2 separate regions of the Homo sapiens genome follow, and region 1 is linked to region 2. A link means that fine-mapping ties the variant in region 2 to the expression of a gene that starts in the linked region. Tissue or cell type: whole blood. Region 2 holds a variant in brackets; the other region holds the start of a gene. All regions are shown on one strand. Distances are between the middles of the regions.

What was found. PIP is the estimated chance that this variant, and not a neighbour inherited with it, causes the effect.
Region 1: PANX1 starts here. The variant in region 2 is fine-mapped to the expression of PANX1 in whole blood (TOPMed, PIP 0.99).

Annotation. Positions count from the first base shown.
Region 1 is chr11:94,123,584-94,134,623 of GRCh38, reverse strand. PANX1 (pannexin 1) reads right to left here and starts at 5,783. Exons shown (of 5, transcript NM_015368.4): 1 at 5,131-5,783. The coding sequence starts at 5,311. RefSeq lists enhancers at 892-1,391, 5,211-5,470, 5,791-5,850 and a silencer at 5,491-5,560.
Region 2 is chr11:94,176,896-94,186,248 of GRCh38, reverse strand. It overlaps PANX1 (pannexin 1), which reads right to left. Exons shown (of 5, transcript NM_015368.4): 3 at 7,657-7,880; 4 at 5,992-6,647; 5 at 4,281-5,459. The coding sequence ends at 5,380. Among named protein-coding and RNA genes, the nearest start is that of PANX1, 53 kb to the right of the region's middle. The variant A/G (reference allele first, on the strand shown) is at 4,311.

The sequences.
Region 1 (11,040 bases), 52 kb after region 2:
ATTTCTTCTTTTTCTAAGGGCATCCCATCATGAAGGTCCCACTCTCATAATCTCATCCAAACCTAATTACCTCCCAAAGGGATCTCCAATTAGCATCACATTGGGGATCAGGACTTCGACATATGAATTTTGCGGTTGGGAGACACAAACATTCAGTCCATAACTGCAGCACACTAAGGGAATTCATAACTTTAGAGAAATACTTCTAGAATTTCAGAGCTTGAAGGTCACGTCATGCAATCATGCTTATATTCTACACAAAGCTGTCGCCCAGCCATTTCCTAAACCTCTCCCCCCATCAATGAAATGTGCAGCACTTCTAGAGGCATCTGAGAGTAGATGTGTTAGAAATGAAGGGCCTCAAGGCACTGTCTCCCAGCAGCTTGCACAAGGTGACACCCATAGGGTACCCAAGCCACACAGATCACACTCATCCTTCTTCCACAGTACACCATTCTGCACTCTGAACACAGATTCTTCCTCATCACAAAAATAACATAAAAAAGAATCTGAGGCACACGCAATATAACCTGAGCTTATAAATCAAGTGGGACAACTTACCTATCATGACGATGTGCATCCTTTACTGCTATCATCAGAGGCAGGTGTCTGGGAGGTGGCCAGGACAGGCCTGACCCAGGACAGCACTTGTATCATTAAATGGCACTCAGAGGGCGCACTTCCAAGCAACTGGGACCCTTATCCAGAACACTCCGTCCATTCCCTCAGCACAGCCACTCTGGGAGAGTTCCCTAGTGTGCTCTGGCACTTCCTTCACTAAATTCCTATGGAGCACTTGTTGAGGGCAAGACATGGTAGAAGACAAGAGGAAGGAAAAATGAGGGCTGGTGAAACCACTGATTCTCCCTTCTCTGGCTCCCACCACACAGCCTTTCTAGCCCAAACTCACAATTAAACTGTCTTTTGCTGTGTGTCACTTATTTTCCCCCTACCCAGCTGAATCTCAGAGGAGGCACACCTGCAGTATTTTAGAAAGGCTGACTAGAAGTATCAGGCCTAACCAGACAGGTGCACATTTTAGTTCTTACATTCAATCCTTAGTATCTCACTGTCCAAAAGCCTTCAAAATGCTCCCAGGCACAACTCAGAAGAGTCTCCTTGCCACTCCCTCAGGAGGGTTTCTGCTTGTAATTCTCACTATCACAGGGCACATCTGGACCAATGAGTGGCTGCCGCAAAGACTACCAAAGTTGCCTCCACCTTGACCATGGCACCAGCCTTGCCATGCCCCTCCAGACCACATCACTTCTGCAGTGACCCTCAACCTGTGATTGTGGGCAGCCAGACCAAGATCTGGTGAATGAGCAAGGCAGAGTCCCTTCTGCTCTCTGTCCCCAACACAGTCCCCACCAGCCCAGGTAGCCCCACACCAGTGCCTACCATGCAGGACCTGCGTGAACTGCTGTGGGAGGGAAGGGGCCAGAACCTCTGAGGAGTGGACGCTTCACCTGCAGCCACCATGCTGGCACCCAGCAGGGCTTGATAAAGATCAGCCTGCTGCTATGCCCATGGGTCTCTGTGGCCCAGGCAGGCTCAGTCCCTCTTTTCTGAGAGGAGCCCAGTGGGCTGAACTACTAAGAGAAAAGGCCAAAGACCAAACGGAAGCCTTTAATATGAAGCCAAGTATTTTATCATATGAGGACATTCCCTCTCTCTAACCTACAACACTCCCACCCCCACAGAGAACCTGCTCTTAAATCTAAAGCACAATCCATGCACATTTCTTGATTTAATAGATTTTCTTTAAAGTAAAAAATCATTTATTTAAAGGAAAAATCGCCACAAAGTTTCAACTTGAACCCTATTTTATCAAACAACAGTTGACAGAAAATTTAATTTTTGGAAAGTAACTGGAAAATATAATTTATTTTACGCTTGAGGGGATTTTATATCAAAAGAGATGAATTCTTATATATACTAGTTTATCATACAGGTGGAAAAAGGAAAAACATGTAATTACAGCTGATTTTCTCGTTTCTAATTTTATACACACACACACCACCCCCCCAACACAAACAGGAAAACAATGGGATTTGCTATGCCTTCTTTCATGTGGAGCCCCTGGACCCTTACTTTGGCTCCCACCTCTCCATGTGACGGTGCCACTAAAGCTCCAGCAGCCACATGTTGTCTCACACGTCTCAGCTTCAGCCAACACTGCTCCACACACTTGGAATCCTGCCTCAGGGGCCAACTCTGCCCTGAAACTCTCACTGTTCATGAGTCAGAAGAAACCCCTCCTTCTGCCTTTCCACAGCATCAGGCTTTAGTACACACTTCTGACACTGCCCAGGTTCCATGAATCCTGCATTAGGAGGGTTATGCGTTCAACTTCTCTACTAGACCGTGCTTCCAGAGGAAAGATTCTTATGTCCTACGTGTGTCTGACACCCCATTGCCAAGGTACAGCATCATGCACATAACAATCAATTAGCAAGGTCTGATGATGCCAAAAGCTATCACCTTTAATTCACAACAAATGTTTATAGAGTAGTTTCAATCTCCATGCAAAACATGCATAGACAGGTTATAAAGCTCTGTGTTAAGTTCAACAAAAGAGTATTCCAAGCACCAGAGAGGGAAGCAGTAATTATCAACAGAGGAAGGATGAAGCCATGTTTTAAGTCTGCAGGCCTTATCTCAGTGTCTTCCCGGGGCCTGAGTTCACTGGCCAATATGGTGGGCAAAGTGCCAGCTCCATTTCAATTACTTCATTCTCCCTTTATTGCTGTTCTTTTTTTTGGTTTGTTTTTGGCTGAGTGCATACTACTAACTACACAAAATTAAATGCTGCATGACATGATCCCTCCCACTGTACCAACTCCATGTATTAATCTATGTACCTCTCCCCTCTTCTCAAAAGCCCTTCTTCTGGTTTTATCTAAATGTATACCTAATCTAATAGGTCTTCCCTGGTCCTGTTAGCTTCATCCCACATGTCTGTCCTCCCCTGGAACTCCTGAAAACACTTCAGAAAACATGGGAGTCTGCTTGACAGCTCCTCACCCAAGTGCCTGCCAACCTTCACCAGCCTGGAGCTCATAGCTCAACACCTGGCTGGGTGCTGAATTACACACAGCTGAATGACTTACCTGCTAACAGATACCTTCTAGTGCCCAACTGCATAGTAAACTGCCACAGGGCAGGGAGAGGGCAGGGCAAGAACAAGGTCTCAAAATCCTTTCCCATCTCCCTCAGCACACAACAGTGCTATGCACACAGCATGAGCTCAAACTCTTGCTAGTTAAAACCACTCCCAATACCCCAAAAATACCTCTCAGACAGCCCACCAATTTAGACGTATCTAAGGCATTACAGGTACAGGTGCCTTAGGAGTCCCTCTAGTACATGTGCTAGAGGTGGAGATTGGTCACAGAGGGTGACTAACTCCTTCCTCCTGCCTTTCTGTCCCAACCAGGTACCCAAGACTTGCACCTCCAAGACAGGGATCATGCCTCTTTTACTCCCGGGTCCTTGGAGGTCAGCACCGAGTTCAGCACACAGCCAGTACTGAAGGAGGAATTGACCAAAGGGAGAGATTATCTCCAGGACTCATGCTACTTGGTGGTTTTGCTTTCAGCTGGAAGCCTCAATCCACTGTCAAATGGAAACTTAAAGAACATCCCGATGACTATGCCTGCGCAAAGAGCAGGAAAACTAAAAACTATTTTCCACAATGAATTTGGCAACTTCCTGCCAAGCTGAACAACTTAGTGCTGCAGATTGCAAAATCACACTCATAGTCATTCTTTCCTAATCAACTATTCCCTCAACTTCACAATTCCCATCACCACCAACACCACACTCCACTCACCCAGACATACAACCTCCGCAGCACGTTTGACCAGTACTGCCGTTCATGGCCTATTAAATACTAGGTACTCAAGTGCTGCTTATTTACTCCTTGATCGCACAGCAATCACCCACCCATTTTCTTCCACTCTTCACACCCTCTGTGCACAAGACCTCAGCCGATGCCTTGCTCTCTGGCACCCAGCCCTCCAGGCCCCATCCTCTCACCTTCTTCCCAGACCCTAAATGCCACCATCATTCAACCAGTCTGTCCTCTGCTCAAACAATAACTTCACAGTTCTGAAACCATCAGCCTACACTCTTCTGTTCCAGGCTGACCCAGGCCCATATTCACTCTCAGACTCCAGGAACTCTGACTTATCCTCCTGCCTTGGCTAGGAGAGTCACTGTGTCTCTCTTTCCAGGAACATATAACATTCTCTGCCATCTCAAAACCTTAACAAAGGTCTTACTCCTTCTTGTCCAAATCCCACCCACCCTCTGACAAAAGTTTTCCCAAAGTCCAGCCGCACTGGGTCCTCTCTCTTCCCCTGCCACAGAACTGTATTTAACCCTCCTGCGCTACCTTCCTGTTGGTTCATAAACACTCTCTCCTGTGTGGAGAGTCAGAACAGCTGATGAGGAAGGTAAGGCACGTAGCCACGTGATCCTGCCCAAACCACCAGACTTTCCAATCTCACACAACTGTTATGAAGCTCAAATGATAATTTACAGGAAGGGGACTTGTTCATCTCACATTTGTAAGACCGTCCAAGTTGAGGATCCCTCTAATGCCTGCCAAGTGCAGATATTTCCTATCATTCACAACCCTAGAGAGCTAAGATCTCAGCAAATACCAATTATATGTAAGACACTGAAAGAACACACTTCTCATGGAGCACCGGTCTTCACATCCTCCATGTAGCCACTCAGGAACTTCTCTGGTGTAAAATTTTAGGCGGCTGGACAAATATGTAGGAGACAGGGGTGAAAAACGGGGACACAGCTATTCTTGGCAAATCTGGTGGCAAGGTGCCAGTTCTAAGGGTGGAACATAAACTATAAGCCACAGTCCGATCAGAGGGGCATGAGGAACAAAAGAACTGAGGAGTAGGGATGCGAGCAGAGTAGACCAGGGTACCAATGAAACACCTGGGCAAAGAACGCTTTGGACCATAAAACTGGGGCCACTGCCCTTCCTGACGCTCACGACCATCACAGCTGGGCGTACCCAGACTCGGGCCTGTGAGCCGTAAAATCGCAGCTCACCGGGCCAGACCGGGGCGGCCACTCCCCTCCGTCCTGGGCGAGGCTTACCAATCGAGATCTCCTGCGCGAAGGCCAGCGAGATGAGCAGCAGGGGCAGCCCCACCGCAATGCACGTGACCATCTTGTCCACAGCCAGCTCCAGTCGCAGCCCCTTGAACTTGGGCTCCGTGGGCTCCTTCAGCAAGAAATCCGAGAACACGTACTCCGTGGCCAGTTGAGCGATGGCCATGGCTGCGGCGCGCCAGGCTCGACCAGGAGGTCCGGGTACAGCCGGCGTCGGGAAAGCTGCGCGGCGCCTTCACCCAGTCACCGGCCGGGCGCGCGGCTTTCGCTTTCCCTTTGCCTGCTCCCGCATCCCGCCTGCCTTTGTGTCTCGGTGCCTCAGGCTCCCAGCGACTCCGCTGGGCTCTCGCGCTCGCTGCCTCCGCCGCCGGCGGGGCGGGGCGGGGCGGGAACCCGAGAGCTCCGCTTCCTGCGGTTCCACCCCGCACGCCCGTGCAAGTCCCCGGGCCGCGCGCGGCACTCGGATTCGCGCCTCTCCCGCGCACCCCCAGGCGCGGGAACCACGCGCGGAACAAAGCGCTTCCCTCTGGCCCTGCCCCTCCGCGCCGCCCTGGCTGCCGAAGCGGCCGCCGGGATAGCCCTGCGCTCACAGCCAGCTGCGCCGCGCTCTTCCGGAACCATGCGGGGAAACCAAGTACCCAGGGGCGTGGAGCTTCCGGAAGACGCGGTGACGCGGGGCGGGGTGGGCGCGGCTGCATTCCGCGCCCCTCGGGCCACTCTCTGACAAAGGGATTTTCCCACTGAGCGGCACCTTTGGAAATTCTCCCGTCCCTCCCTGCCGGATTCTCCTCACGTCCTGGCACCCGGGAGTTTTAAAATCATTTCTGCAAGCGACTCTTTCTGTGGATGGGATGGCCCCCTTTACGCCCCACCCCCAACATTTCCAACACGGTGAAATCGGGTTAGAAGGAGCTGCAAAAGCTTCAAAGAACAGTCAGTGCCATAAAAGGCCAATCGAGCGGTGTAGACCGACGGTGCCTTGCAGAGGGAGCGCTGGACCCTTCCAGGAGCTCCGCGTGAGAGGGTGGCGCGGAAACGGTAGTGAGTGTGGAGTTTCGAGGCCTGAGTAGCGCTGCTGGTCCCGTTTCTCTTTCCTCTGCCATCCCAATCAGAGCCTTGTTCCGGGAGCCAGCAGAGAGAGGGGGGCCTGCAGGTAGGTGGGTGTTGGGGCTGCAGAGAGCTGCTTCTGAACAGCTCATAGGAAGTGGATGATGGAAAGACAGGAGGAAATACTCTGACCAGTGTCCACGGAAATTAAGGCTGTTGAAGTAGAAATAATTTGATTTATTGGAAGCTAAATGTGAGGATCCACCCAAGAAGACTTACCAGCAAAGTTGGGCATGTTTCAAAATTTGTTACACGTTGGAAGGGTTTTAGAAGAAAGTTTAGGAAAAGGGAGGAGGACCCCTTATATCAGAGGTGGGATTTTTTTCATCGGAGGGTATGGTACACAGGTTACAGTCACTGGCTGCAGATGACAACATACAGGCTAAAATGTTTTGTGCACAAGAAAATCAAAGTTTATATGATTCAGAAACAAGTCAGTGTTCTTTTCAATGTCAGTATTTTACATACTAATCAGTACATCAGCAGTTTGAGGAACTGACAAAAGGATTTGAAGGACTCACAGTAAGATTTTTTACTCAGGGACAGGATCTAAGCCATGAATCATAAGACCTTTCTTAGATGGCTTAGTTTGGAAGCCCTGTCAAATGTGACATGTAGGTTATCACCAGTAACATTTGAAGCAGGCAGGACCTGCAAACATGAGGGCTCCTTGGGGCAGGGCTTGGCTCCCTTCTCTGTGGGTCCACAGATACAAGCCTCAACTCCCACATGTACCTCTCCACCCCAGCCTGGCCGCTAAACACACATCCAAGAGCGTATACAGCTCTCTCCGCGTAGATGGCTCATAGGGCTTCAAACTCATAACGGCCAGGACTTCAGTCTTCATCTTCCCCTTAAACCTGAACTCCATCTTCCCCATCTTACTAAATGTACCACCAGCCACCTGTGCACCCAAGTCGGAATCCTGGAGCACCATCTTCAACACTCCATTTCTCACAGCTGCCATAACCAATTTTCAAATTCTCTTGCTTCTCTCTCCTAAATATAGCAAATCTGACACCCCTCCACCTGCACTGCCAATACCCAATTCAACTCACCATCCTGTCTCCTAACCACATATAGGAAATATGTGAGACAGGGTCCCCCTCCATTCTCCTCTACAGCTGCCAGGATGAGCTTTTCAAAACTCCAGTCGGATCATCTTTTCTACTTAAAGTGTACATTGTTTTTAGCATAAAATACAAATTTCTTAGCATGGCCTCTGCCTACCTCACCACCAGCTTCACTGCTTTCCTTTCAGTTCTTCAAGTTAGCTAAGCCCTTGGCCTCCTCCAGGCCTTCCCACCCAAAACACTCCCCACAGTGGCCTCTTTGCCTGGCCCACCTTTATTCACCCTTCTGGCCTCAGCTTGATGTCACTTCCCTGGGAAAGCCTTCCCTAAGTAGACAGACTAGATTAGGTCCCTTTGTGAAATTCTCCCATAATACTAGCCACACTAGTTACTAGCTATTAGTCTTGGGGAGTTCTTTGACTCTCCTGTGTCTCAGTTTTCTCATCTGTAAAAAGGTTGTACCTCTTAGGACTGTGATAAGGACCAAATGAGTTAACACGTGGGTAGTGCCCAGTGCCTGGCACCTTGTGAATCTAGGTACATTTCATCTGTCATTGTTCTCTATTTTTCCTTCTTAAAAATAGTCACCATTGCAACTCAACAAATATTTATTCATTTATTTAGTGTTTGCCACCACTTTATGTGATCGGCTTCTTGAGGGTAGGCCCATGCCCATGTGTACCACTTTTATCCTCAACACTTAGCACAAATGCCTCACACAGAGTTGATGTTTTAATTCATATTATTAAATAAATGTCTGAAGGAATCTGAACACTTTTTAAAACTGGCCCAGTTCACACTCATTTATCCATACATTCCAGGCATATATTAGAGGCTGGTGATGGGCCAGTTCTGGGCTCAGTGGATGGGGAAGCAGAAATGAAGTGAATGGATTCCATTTCCTCAAAGACCTTATGGCTTAGCAAGAGAAATAAGGCATGCACACAATTAACTATAATGCAAGGTAGAAAGAGTGATTATTGTGAAAAGTGGGGTATACCAAGGGAGGTGCAGAGAATAAGTAGGGCCTGGGAGAATGTGTCAGTTGGGACATTCAGAGCTGGGACAGGGGCTTTCTGGGAGTCAGGAAATCATGGGTGCCATTTCCCTTCTTTCCTTGCCAAAAGCTAATCATCCGATAGGCTCAAATGGCCCCTTTTTAGGCTCAAATGCCCCCTTTTTAGGAAGCCTTCCAGGATCCTCCAGTTGTAATGAATCCTTCCCTCCCTTGTTACTCTCTCCTCTGGCCTAGAAGTTAGTTCATTTTGCCTCCTGTGATGGGATGATGGATTGTGTATCTCTTTTTTCATTACATAGCAAGTTCCTCTGAGGATCTGGAGTGAATCTCAGCAGTTGCATAAATTGCCCTCAGTTTTGGCAATTTTTTACATTCCATATGATGTTATCCTACTTTTAATGAATTTAAAATAGAAGCCAGATGGAGAACTTGTTGGAAAATAGTGTGTCCGGAATTGATTCCTTCTGGTGGGTTCTTGGTCTCACTGACTTCAAGAATGAAGCCACGGGCCCTCGTGTTGAGTGTTACTGTTCTTAAAGGTAGTGTGGACCCAAAGAGTGAGCAGCAGCAAGATTTATTGTGAAGAACAAAAGAACAAAGCTTCCACAGCATGGAAGGGAAGCTGAGCAGCTTGCCGCTCTGGTGGCCAGCTTGTATTCACTTATTTGGCCCCGCCCACATCTTGCTGATTGGTCCATTTTACAGAGCGCTGATTGGTCCATTTCACAGAGTGATAATTGGTGCATTTACAAAACTTTAGCTACACACAGAGCACCGATTGGTGCATTTTTACAGAGTGCTGATTGGTGCATTTACAAACCTTTAGGTAGACACAGAGCGCTGGTTGCTGTGTTTTTACAGAGTACTGATTGGTGCGTTTACAAACCTTTAGCTAGACACAGAGCACTGATTGGTGTGTTTACAATCCTCTAGCTAGACAGAAAATTTCTCCAAGTCCCCATCTGACCCAGAAGCCCAGCTGGCTTCACCTCTCAATCCCCCCTCTAAACAGGACACCCCAACTGCTGTTGGGAATTGGGTGATGACTGCTCTAGCTACTTCCTGCTGGATAGGAGCAAAGAAGGGGCCCTGCAGTTGTAGTATCCTCCAGAGGGGAACTCTTTAGGCCAGTGAAAGGACCAGCGGGTCGGTCCAGGGGTCCTCGGTAGAAGTTGTTAGTTGAGCTCATTTGGGGTTCCATTGGTAAGACCATCTGTAGCTTGATGGCCTCGATCCTAGAGGAAACAAATTTAACAAGGAGTTTAAAAATACAGGGCCCGAAGGCAAGTAATAGTAAGATGGCTGCCATGGGACCTAGAAAGGGGAGAAGCCATGTTGCCCAACTCCAGAGGTTGGTATAAGAGTTTGAAAGGCATTGTCTGATTTTGGAAGCCTTTTCCTGTAAACGCCAGGTGGCATATCATACTATCCCTGAATGGTTAGTGTGAAAACAACACTCTTCCCCTAAGAAGGTGCACAGTCCTCCTTTCTCAGCAGTGAGGAGGTCTAGGCCTCGGCCGTTTTGGAGAGTCGCTGCTGCCAAAGAGTCTATTTGGGATTGTAGAATAAGGATAGATTTCGTTATCTCTTGCAAACTGTCTGAGAAATCCTTTGAGAGTGTGTGGTAGTAGGATAATGAAGTAGATAAACTGACTATTCCGGTTCCTGTAGCAGTAGCCATTCCTAACCCCATAAGTAGGGGTATTAGTTGTATGGCTCTGCACTAACAGACTTGAGCTTTGAGGGGTACTGATAGGGTCTGATTTCCTGGGGAAATGTTAATGTCGGGACTTAGAAATACTAAGGTGCAGGTGCCTTCCAGTTAGTGGGGTGGCAGATATAGTTCAACATTCCACATAAGAAGAATATACCTTGGCTGGGTAGACAGAACTGGTTGTGTATGTTATAAAGGTGTGTGAGTTTATTGTTTTCATTTTCCTATACTCCTAGAATACTTGCCAAGATAGCTGCTATGAGTGGCTGGAAAGGGGTGTTGGGAGCAAACTGAGTGGCTCCCTGTGTTCTATTTTCCCATTGGAGAAAAAACCATTTTGTATCTACTAGGAACCATTCGAGAGAGCGATTGAAAGAGGGGATGAGATGGCATTCACTAGTGGTGGGGATACTGCTGCAGGGGGTCCAGGGGTGAATGGTCATGCAGAGAGTATGTTTGCCATTACAAAACCTGGACTGTTTGTTAAGCAGGGAGGAGGTGATGATTTTGGGGGCCCCTGAGACGTGGACAAGCCGTCTGAATGGAGCTGTTTGAGTGACTTGGAAGTTACTATGATCAGTTGGGGCTTGAAGTTGTATGGTGTAATTACACTGATGTGGTAGTAGGTGCCCCAGGAGCAGACCTGATAACAGGTTGCATTGGATGCATAAAGGGGCTTGGAAAGTTAAGATGGTATTTGTAGTTACAGGGCTGTGTATGGGCTTTTCATTGCTTGTGTAATAGGTGAGGTTGGAAATGTAAGAACGCAAAAGTTGTATCGCATGTCCTGTTAGGGTATTCTTGGTCCTATCAGAGATGGGGAAGTTGGCTAATGATTGCATATTTAGAAGTCGGAAAGGGTCTTTTCCTTCAAAACGAGGGTGGTATGTTAAGTTGGTAAAGACCCAGTTTTTTGCAGGAATGGGAGGTTCTGCCTGGCAGCAATTTTGGCCTTAGCATCTGCCCGACGGTTTCCTTCTGCC
Region 2 (9,353 bases):
CCACAACTAGGCTGTAGCACTGTGAATCCCTGAGCACAGGACCTAGCTGAGCTGTGTCCAGATTCCTGACCCAGGAAACTGCAAGATGATATATGTGTATTGCTTTAAGCTGCTAAGTTTGCATTAATTTGTTATGGAGCAATAGAAAACTAATACAACATCCAAGGGTCCTGGGGTTGCCACCCTGGGAATAGCTGGTGAGCAAGATAGTCAAAGCTAGCACTTAGAGAGAATTTACTATATTTGTGATATGCCAGGAATGGCACTAAAATTTCACATGGCTCTGATTACCCACAATAGTAAGCTGTACTAACCATTGTACAAAGGAGTCCTCCTCTTGAGAGAGGTGAGCAGGAGAACCCATGTTTAGTAGCACATGGTTGCTGATCTTTTTTTCCCAAGCCCAGGCAAACAATCCTCAATCAGAAAGCAAGTGATTTGTGCTTTAGAAATTCCAGAATCTGTGGGCCCTTAATCAAGGACTCTCTTTCTTTAGTCACTGCCAGCTGGATTTTAGCAAGCAGCATGAAGCCTATGGAATTTTATGTTTCCAGCAGACAGCAATGAGCCTCAAGACATTTTGGAATGCATCTCCCATTACATCTTCCATGAAATGACTCTCCCTAAAGGGAAGGCAAGAAATATTAAGACATTTTTCATTACTTACTCAGTTTTATTTAGGTGGACACAACAGTGAAGAACTCAAACATGGTTTGACCTTTATCTACAGACACAGCAGCCTGGATTTTCAGCCTTTCATTCCTTTTAAATGAAAGTCAGCAGGCTCAAAATGCAGAGCTTGGCTAAGTCACTTCTGTGGAAATATGAAATATAGTAGTGATAACCACCAAGGGCTTTCAAATTCTTGTGTTCTTCTAAGGATCCTTTCCTAACACCATGATTTGTTCTCATCTTTGTGGAAATGAAACCAAGATGGTCTTAATTTGTAAAGTCCTTTTTCCTCTGTTGGCAGTCTTCTTACAAAGGATGCAGCAAAAAGAACACATTTTTCTTTCAAAGTTTTGAAGAAATATAGTCATTAAAAAGAATTTAAATTATGCCTAAAGCACCACTTTACAGAATACCATTAAATTGTAATTACGTGCTTTTAAAAAGCCAACTTGTTAAAGAGGAGCTGATGGTTTCAGTTTTTGTAGGGAACACTTGTAACACTGCAGAATTCTACAAGGGCTTTCTCCTCTGGTGGGCAGGGAAAAAACCACTCAAGTCATGAGAAACTTTTATAGCTTTCAGGAACTTGAAGAACAACTGCTGATTAAATTTCATGCTTTAGTGACGAAGTATTTTTACAGCTAAAAAAGGAACCCAGAAACATAATACATTTCATTTAAAGCAGGCAGAAAAACCAACCACAAATTAATATCTATTGTATTCCACATGGCACTATATAATCGTTGTCAATCGTTTTAAATGGTTTCACTTTATTTGTGAAAAATAAAGCCAAAATGCCAACAACTTCCAAGAAGGAACCATTTCATCATCTCCATCCCCTCAGATAAAACCTCAATTACTGGTAATTGTACATTTCCATCAATATCCCTTTTAAAGAGGTTTATTCTGAGGAATTACTGAGACCAGGAGCTTTAAAAGCTTCAATTTCCCTAATCACTGAGAGGCAATCTTGAACTTCTATTGAACTTGGAAAGCGGTCAAGACTCACTCCATAATAAGAAGTTAAGGACTGTCACTACTTAAGGTGGAAACCTATTCATTTGCAGAAATAGTCCTCTTTCTACCAAGAGGCTAATGAGCCTCCCCTCCCCTTCCCCTCTCTAAAATAAAATCAGTTTGCCTTCTAAAATCAAATAACAGTTGCCAACAAATTAGGATTTATCCTAAGAGTTTGTCCATTCATTTCAACAAACATTTGAAGAATGCCTCATCTGGGCCAGTCTCTGTTTTAAGCACTTGCGATATAGCAGTGCATAAAAATTCTCACCCTTACAAACCTTTGATTGACCCAGGACTGACAGTAAGCAAAACAAACCAAACACGAGCACATTTTAAAAAGGTGTCTAAAAACCTGCCTGATAGCTGAGCTAATTCTCATAGGCACAAACTGCCCTGACCTGAGCTCACTCTTGGACAAGCAGTTCCCACAAATGAAACTAAACATGCAAACCAGACCCACTGTACAGGTGGAAGTTTCCAGCTTTCTCACAGTACAAGTTTAAGGTAGGACGCAGCATTTTATAGTGTTACGTCCTTCCTCCCCACATTCCTGTGAGGCGGAACAAGAACAATTACTTGACCCTGGAGGAAGACGACGCCTTGTGGTCAGGGAGAGAACAGCAGTTCATGCTGGCTGCCTCGTCTTTCCAGGCCTGCTGCTGCCCAGGCTTCTACTGACCTTGTTAGGTCTGATTCTAGAAAATGAAGGCAGGTACTCAAAAGGTACAGTTCACCCAGAAGAATGTAAATGTGACTGAGCTAAGCAAACGTACAGCTGAGTCTTAGTGTTGGGGGAAGTAGCTTTCATGAAGGCAAAGGGAGCCCCATTCTCGGCCGTATGGCTTGCTCTTCAGCCGTTGGAGTGCAGCTTTTTCAGAGGCGTGGACTAAAATGACCTCCTAAGGTGCACTGAAAATGTTGGCTGTAGATCTGAGGAGAGGGTCCATAGCTATAAAAATATTTGCAAGGGGATTGTAACCCCTCGAAGTTTAAGAACCTCTATGTTGGAAGTCTCTGCCTATCCCTTTGTAAAAGTGAAGATGTGTTGGAACGCTGCTTTCACAGTACTCTATGTCCCTCCCAGTTGCAACAATGTTGTTTCCAGCCTGGTTCAGCAGCTTGCTGGTGGTTTACTAGGCAGACATGAGCCAGAAACAAAATCAGCAACCCTGGAGTGGTCATTTAGGATCAGTTTTGTCTCCTTTTACAAAGCAATGAGTGCTTTATAAAAGCATTTCTCCTCAGGAAACTGGCTCCTCAAAAGTCGTTCTCCAAGCCAGCAGCTCACAGTAGATGGATGAGTTTACCTGTCCTAATAATACTTTTTATTATAATACTTTTATTACTGATACTTTATTATAATACTTTTATTACTGATACTGATACCTAGTAATACTTTTATTAGATGAAATGTATCCCCAGGCCTCCACATCAGCCTTCTGGGGCCCTGACAGTTGTTTACCAGTAGCTCCACAACCTCCACAGGCTTGTTCTCTCATCCCTGTGAGGGAAGGTTCAAAAGGCAACTGGATTCCTTACTATTCAAAATCACTGTGACTATTTCACACAAACTTCAACCTAGAGGATTTGCAGCTAAAGAACCTTAAGGTGGTCATCTGCCTCTGGGAAAAATGATTACTATATTCTCAAAACCAGCAGTTACAGGAACTATAGGAGAGAAAACAAAAACAATGTGCCCTCTCCCAAGAACACAGAGCATTTGCTAGGAGTTTTCTGGCATAGCCTTTACTGTGGCTACGCTTTCTCCTCTTAGGCACCAGCCCATGTTTCTGCTGCCTTTTACTGGACTCTGAAGTCCTCAAGGATGGGACCTGCCTATGCATATCTGCACATCCAACTTGGTACTGGTGCCTGGGACATCACAGACCCTACTGGAGTTCAGAGAGTGGGAATGGCTTGGAGACTTCCTGGTGTCCTAAAATATCAATTTTTACCGTTTCAAAATAGAAATTAAGGATAGTCTACAGAAGATGAAGCTTTTTGTAAAAAAAAAATCATATCCTAGAAAATGTATCTCGTAAATCTTTTTAAATTTTCAAAAGAAACCAGTGTAGAAACTTGTGATGGAACATCTCAGATACGGCAATATAATAATTTTGCAAATTCCATTATTTAGGTTACTGCCATTTCTAAGTCACAGAATAATTCAACAGTAATAAATATCATGTAACAGAATAATTTAACGCACTGATTGCTACTTTGATATTTATCATCAGCTTTCCATTTCAGAAAACATCACAGAAGTACAAATAAAATCTGCTTTTCTGAATATTCCAAAAGGCAGACAGCAGCTTATATAATTTCCGTTCTTCAGAAAACAGTAATTAGATTATGTAAACAACTGTCCGTAAGAGCTAAAAGTAAACTTGGAGGTTCCTGAGGATTACTGAACTTATGCAACATGCTAACTTTCTAAGACTAAAACTGGGAAGTTCCACAGATGTTAAAGATTTTTGTGTGTGTGTGTAAAATGTGAACATAGGATCTATTTACATAGTTGGAATTGGGAACAGTTTTTAACATGTTCTGAATCAGCTTTAAATGTTTATGAAATAAGCTTACATTTGTCTTATCCAACCATTTATAATCTTTATTCT[A/G]TAATTCTCCACCAGTGCTAGAATTTTCTTCCCAAATGGCCTCAATTCGGACACTGAATAAACGATAATGAATTTTTTAAAGCTGTGCTTAAATATAAACAAAATAAACCGCTAAGTTTTTCTGGCTCCAAGCACGCCATATGAAGCATGCCAATGTCACTTATGTGCCCTGATCACATTCAGGCAAAGTGTTCTTCACTTTAAATACTCCTGTGTTCCATTATTGTTTAAGTAAAATCCTATTTCAAATGCCTTTGATAACAGAGAAACCGCCTGTAGACAAACTCTTTGAAAGTGACTGAATTAATGTCTTCTGTGATGTCAGATTTCCCCACTGGGCTCTTTTGGAAGCATTCTTCCTGAATTGAAGTCACTGTGAATATCCTTTAGATTTCATCTTGTTAACTCAGTTTTCAGTCAGAGCAGCACTTGGGCCTGCTGCCCTTCAAGGCACAGTGCAACAAATAGTGGTTACGGGATTTCCATCAGCCAAGGTTGACAACTAACAATGTAAAGAGAGCTCGAGTGTGGGCCAAGGCATCGGACCTTACACCTAACTTAGGACATAGGTCGACCTATGGATTATTAGCCAGTGAATGCTTTTCTTGTCTAACAGTCTTTAAGGGCACATAAGAAACTCACGTTAAATTATACCCTGACATATTATTATTCCATGAAAACAAAACAAATCTTCCAAAGTGCTTGTTTTCCAGTAGCTCTGGGTCTTGTCTCACCACGGGTACAGAAAGGTATTGCTCCGAGGCTCTGACAGGGCTACTGCTCTTGACTAATTGTTCTTGTCTTTCTGCTTTTCATTTGATGAGGACTTACACATAGTTACTTGCTGCAGTTTACTATCTCTCAGGTGCTTCCTATGGGAAGTTCATAAACCATTCTTCCATAACCTTTTGTTGATCACCATTTCCATTAGGGACTCAATAAGACATGCTCAGTATCTCCACCAAGAACCATTTATTGCAAACCAGCTGTGAAACCAACAGGGGTGCTTTAGCCAAATTAAATCCCATGTCGCAGAAGTCACAGATTTACAGCTCAAGGAAAAAAATCATCAGCAAGAAGAATCCAGAAGTCTCTGTCGGGCATTCTTCTCTCCATTATTTGCTTTAGTTTCACTGTCTATGTTCATACCTGTCAAAATTGAAAACAAATATTTATGACAGAAACATAGCAGGAATTACCAATACTAATCAATTTTTCTTCTGCCAAAAATTCCTCTCACAGTCTATACCATGTTTTGCTTCTTGGCCTAACTAAAAGAATCAATAAACTTTTAGTCCCCTTTGAAAGAGAAAGTCAGAGAGTAACAGAGAAGGAGATCAGAGGTAGAAAGGAAAGCCAGTAAGATAAGACAAAAATAAGCAAGAAAGACAAGGAAGATTGCTGAGCAAGAGAGAGTGTGAGACAGACAGAGAAGAGGGAAAAACCAGAAAAAGCACAGAAGTTATTCTTCTTTGGAAATGTAGAGCAGCACCAATTCTTTTCCTCTCTCTCCTTATACTGAGGGGTTCCCACTCCCCCTACCCCGCACCTTGGTATTAAGGTTTTTAATGCTTGGAAATGGTTTAAATGATGGGCAGGGTAAAGACTGTCAATATTCCCACAAGGCTGCTGCAAAGGCTCTCGGTAGACTCCCGTAGCCTCTGCCAAAAGCAAACCCTACCTTGGAGCTCTGCCGTCTGGTTCCCCTGCTCCTCTCTCATCTCTGCAGACATGGGAGTTTTGCCATCAACAACATCCATCTTGATCATGCCAAGGTTTGTCAGGAGTAGCATTGGGTCGATCCCCTGACCACTGCTCTTAATATTCTCCAGTACCTTAAGACACTTGTATGACTTGACCTCACTTATATTTTCCTCCAAGAAGAGATTGTAGAGGCTCAAATCGTTGTACCCTTCAGATTTGAAATGCAGAACATCAAAAGTGGGGAGGATTTCGTACACTTTGAGAACATCTGTCTTCTGTCGGAATGGAACAAACAGCGTGTAGACAACCACGGGAGCCAGCAGGACATAAACCACAAGGTTAATGACACTGAGCAACTGGAAGATGCCCACGGCAATGAGTTTGCACTGAAACTGATCGGGCACGGTGCTGTCGTTTCTCAGGATCCCTGATTTGATGCTGCACACAAACTCGTCTGAGAGTGAGGAGAGGCTGAAGTAATAGCCCAGGTAGATACACGCTAACAGTATAATGATGAGTGTCAGCAGGCGGCAGCTAATGTACTTGATGATTAAATTATTAGAATTTTTCTTTGTCTTCAAGTACTGCTCCACAATTGGGTACTTGAAGTGGCTTTCAGATACCTCCCACAAACTAAAAAATAAAGGAAACAAAAATAACTTAGGCACTCATCAAGACCATCAAATATTAAAGGCAGATACACATTCAACAATGTCACACTAAAAATTTCAAACACCCATACTTCTTTACCTACAACGTCAGTAGTCAAAAATAAAATCCGTTTAAAAGAGGAGGAAGAAAAGGAATAATAAAATGCTTTTCCCCTTAATATTTAACAGAAGGCCTAGTTAATTAAATGAGTTAATATTTGGAAATTTTTAGAGTGATGCCTGGCATCTGGTAAATCCTAAATATGTGTAAGCATACGCCTCTTACAGGCAAGGGGTGGGACAACTCAGGGGGTATGGGCAAAAACTATGGGGTCTAAAGGGCATGGTTCAGTTCCCAGACTCTCACTTACAGCTACAGAAGAGTATTTTTATCCAGAATAAAAGTGGAGGAGGAGGTTAACAAATGCACTAGTAATGTTGCTCTGAGGGTTAAAGGAGATAATGTACTTAAATAACTCAATACGGTGTGTGAGATATATTAAATATTCAAAAAATGATGGCTCTTATTATTATTCCAATTATTCAATAACAAGAACCAAAAGAAGGTTGTGAAAAGGCAAGCCACGACCTACTCATTCCCCATTTCTCTCTCATCCCTTGCTCAGCTGCCTTGAAATCCTCTGTGCGTCTCCATTAAGGAGTTAAATAGATCAAAGCAAGCAAGCTTCATATAGCACCTCAATCTGTTACCCCTACAAGAACTGCATTTTTAAAATGAGATGTAATGTTTCACTCATCAAGGGAATGAGTCTTGACAGAAGGATAAACAAATGGGTAGGATGGGTCGCGGTGAGATTTGGGGAGAGTGGACATCCCGGGATACTACAGGCTGTCACTAGGTGCATGACGTCCCCCTGCTTCCACTCCTGCCCCGCCTCCTAGCAATGAGAACTCTGGGCCCAGACTGGCAGTAGAAGGGCAGAGAATTTGTCCTACAAAACCCGATGAGCTGCCTGCTGGGGCTAAGTTACCTTTGCCCTAAGTTCTCGGTAACACCTGGAACTGAGCAGGCTCCATCTCTCATGTCAAGGTCACGCGCACTCTTTGCAGCCTTAATTGCACGGTTGTAAACTTTGTCAAGTTCTTCCATGATAAACTTCAAGTCTGAGCAAATATGAGGAGCAGCTGCGAAACGCCAGAACAGCGGGGGCAGGTACAGGAGGATCGCAAAGAGCAGCAGGATGTAGGGGAAAAACTGAAAAACAAGAGAACAAATCATGGGCTTAACAAACCCCCCATGCAGTAACCTATGGCGCCAAGTGATGCTCTCATTTTCTCACATCTTGAGACAAATGTGTATTGTGGAAATTGGGCTCATTACCTAATAACTACTTCTTATGGCTAAATTCCCCTGTCCAGGTAATACCTGTCACAGGTAACTACCTATTTTTTTTTCTTCCATAGGTATTAATTTGAAGTAATCAGCAACTGCATGGTGACACATGGTGTGTACGTTCTAATCACAGAAGGAAAATAAAAAAATAAAATTACTCCCGTTCCCTGAACAAAATCCCAGTTAAGAAACCTGCAGCTATCACGAAGGCTTCTGCTGGGTTTTTGTTAACTTTTATGGTTTTAAGAAGCAACTAAGGCATACGGCTCCATTTTTGCCCTACTCTGGAATCTGGGAAAATGCCAAAGAAACATGTAACTTCCCCCAAAACAAATTAGAAAAGCTTCGACTTCAGTGATTCAGTAATCATCCCAATAAGACAGCTGAAATAAGCAGTTGAATTCACAGAATGCAGAATGAATGTGGAACAGACTTTGAAGGCAGTCCAACACCCTCATCGTATAGTTGGATAAACTTGGGCTCAGAGAGGCCATCCACAACGGGCAAGGGAATCAAGAGGAGAGCATCCACATCAGGGTGCAGACACACACCAAACAAGAGGGGATTCACACGTCAGAGAGGGTGAGGAGCACCCCAGTAACCAGGACCACCAGTTGGTCAGAGGTGGCTTAGCCTCAGCAGAAGACTTAGGAAGACCGTAAATTGCAGTCAGTGCAGATCTGAATTGAAGCTCAGCATTGCGGCCTTGGGCAATCATGTCTACTCTGCAGAACTAAGTAGCTGCGACAGTGACCATGTGATCTGCAATGACAAAAAAACTTTATGATCTGGCCCTCTGCAGAAGTTTGCTGACCCTGGTCTAGGCCCTTGATGTCACTTTCGACTATCCTTTTGCGTGATCTTCTAATCAGCAATAAGACATAAGAGTATTGCTTTTTGTTTGCTCTTTGCCTTCTTGGACAAAACTGCTTCTTTTCCTTTCTGTTCCCTAATTAGAACCCTCACTCTGTGCTTACCAAGTGGCTCTCCCTGCCTCTATTCTCTCCTGTACACCATTACTGAGGCTTAACTCTTGGAACCGCCAAGTTCACCCTGCTCAGGTACCTGCAATGGCTCCCGCTGTCCCCAGCATTTAGCCCATCCATCTGGTTAGTTTTCAAAGTCTCTGACCCTCAGTTTCCTTATGTATGAAATGGTCATGGAATAGAGGTGTCATGAAGATTAAAGGAGATAATTGATGGAAAATGCTTAGCAAAGGGCCTGGCATAGAACAGGCACTCAAACACTCCAGGTAACCACAAAAAGATTAGCTAGGTGGACACGTTATGTTCAGTCCTCACAGCAACCCTGGCAGGGACTCTATAGATGGCTCCA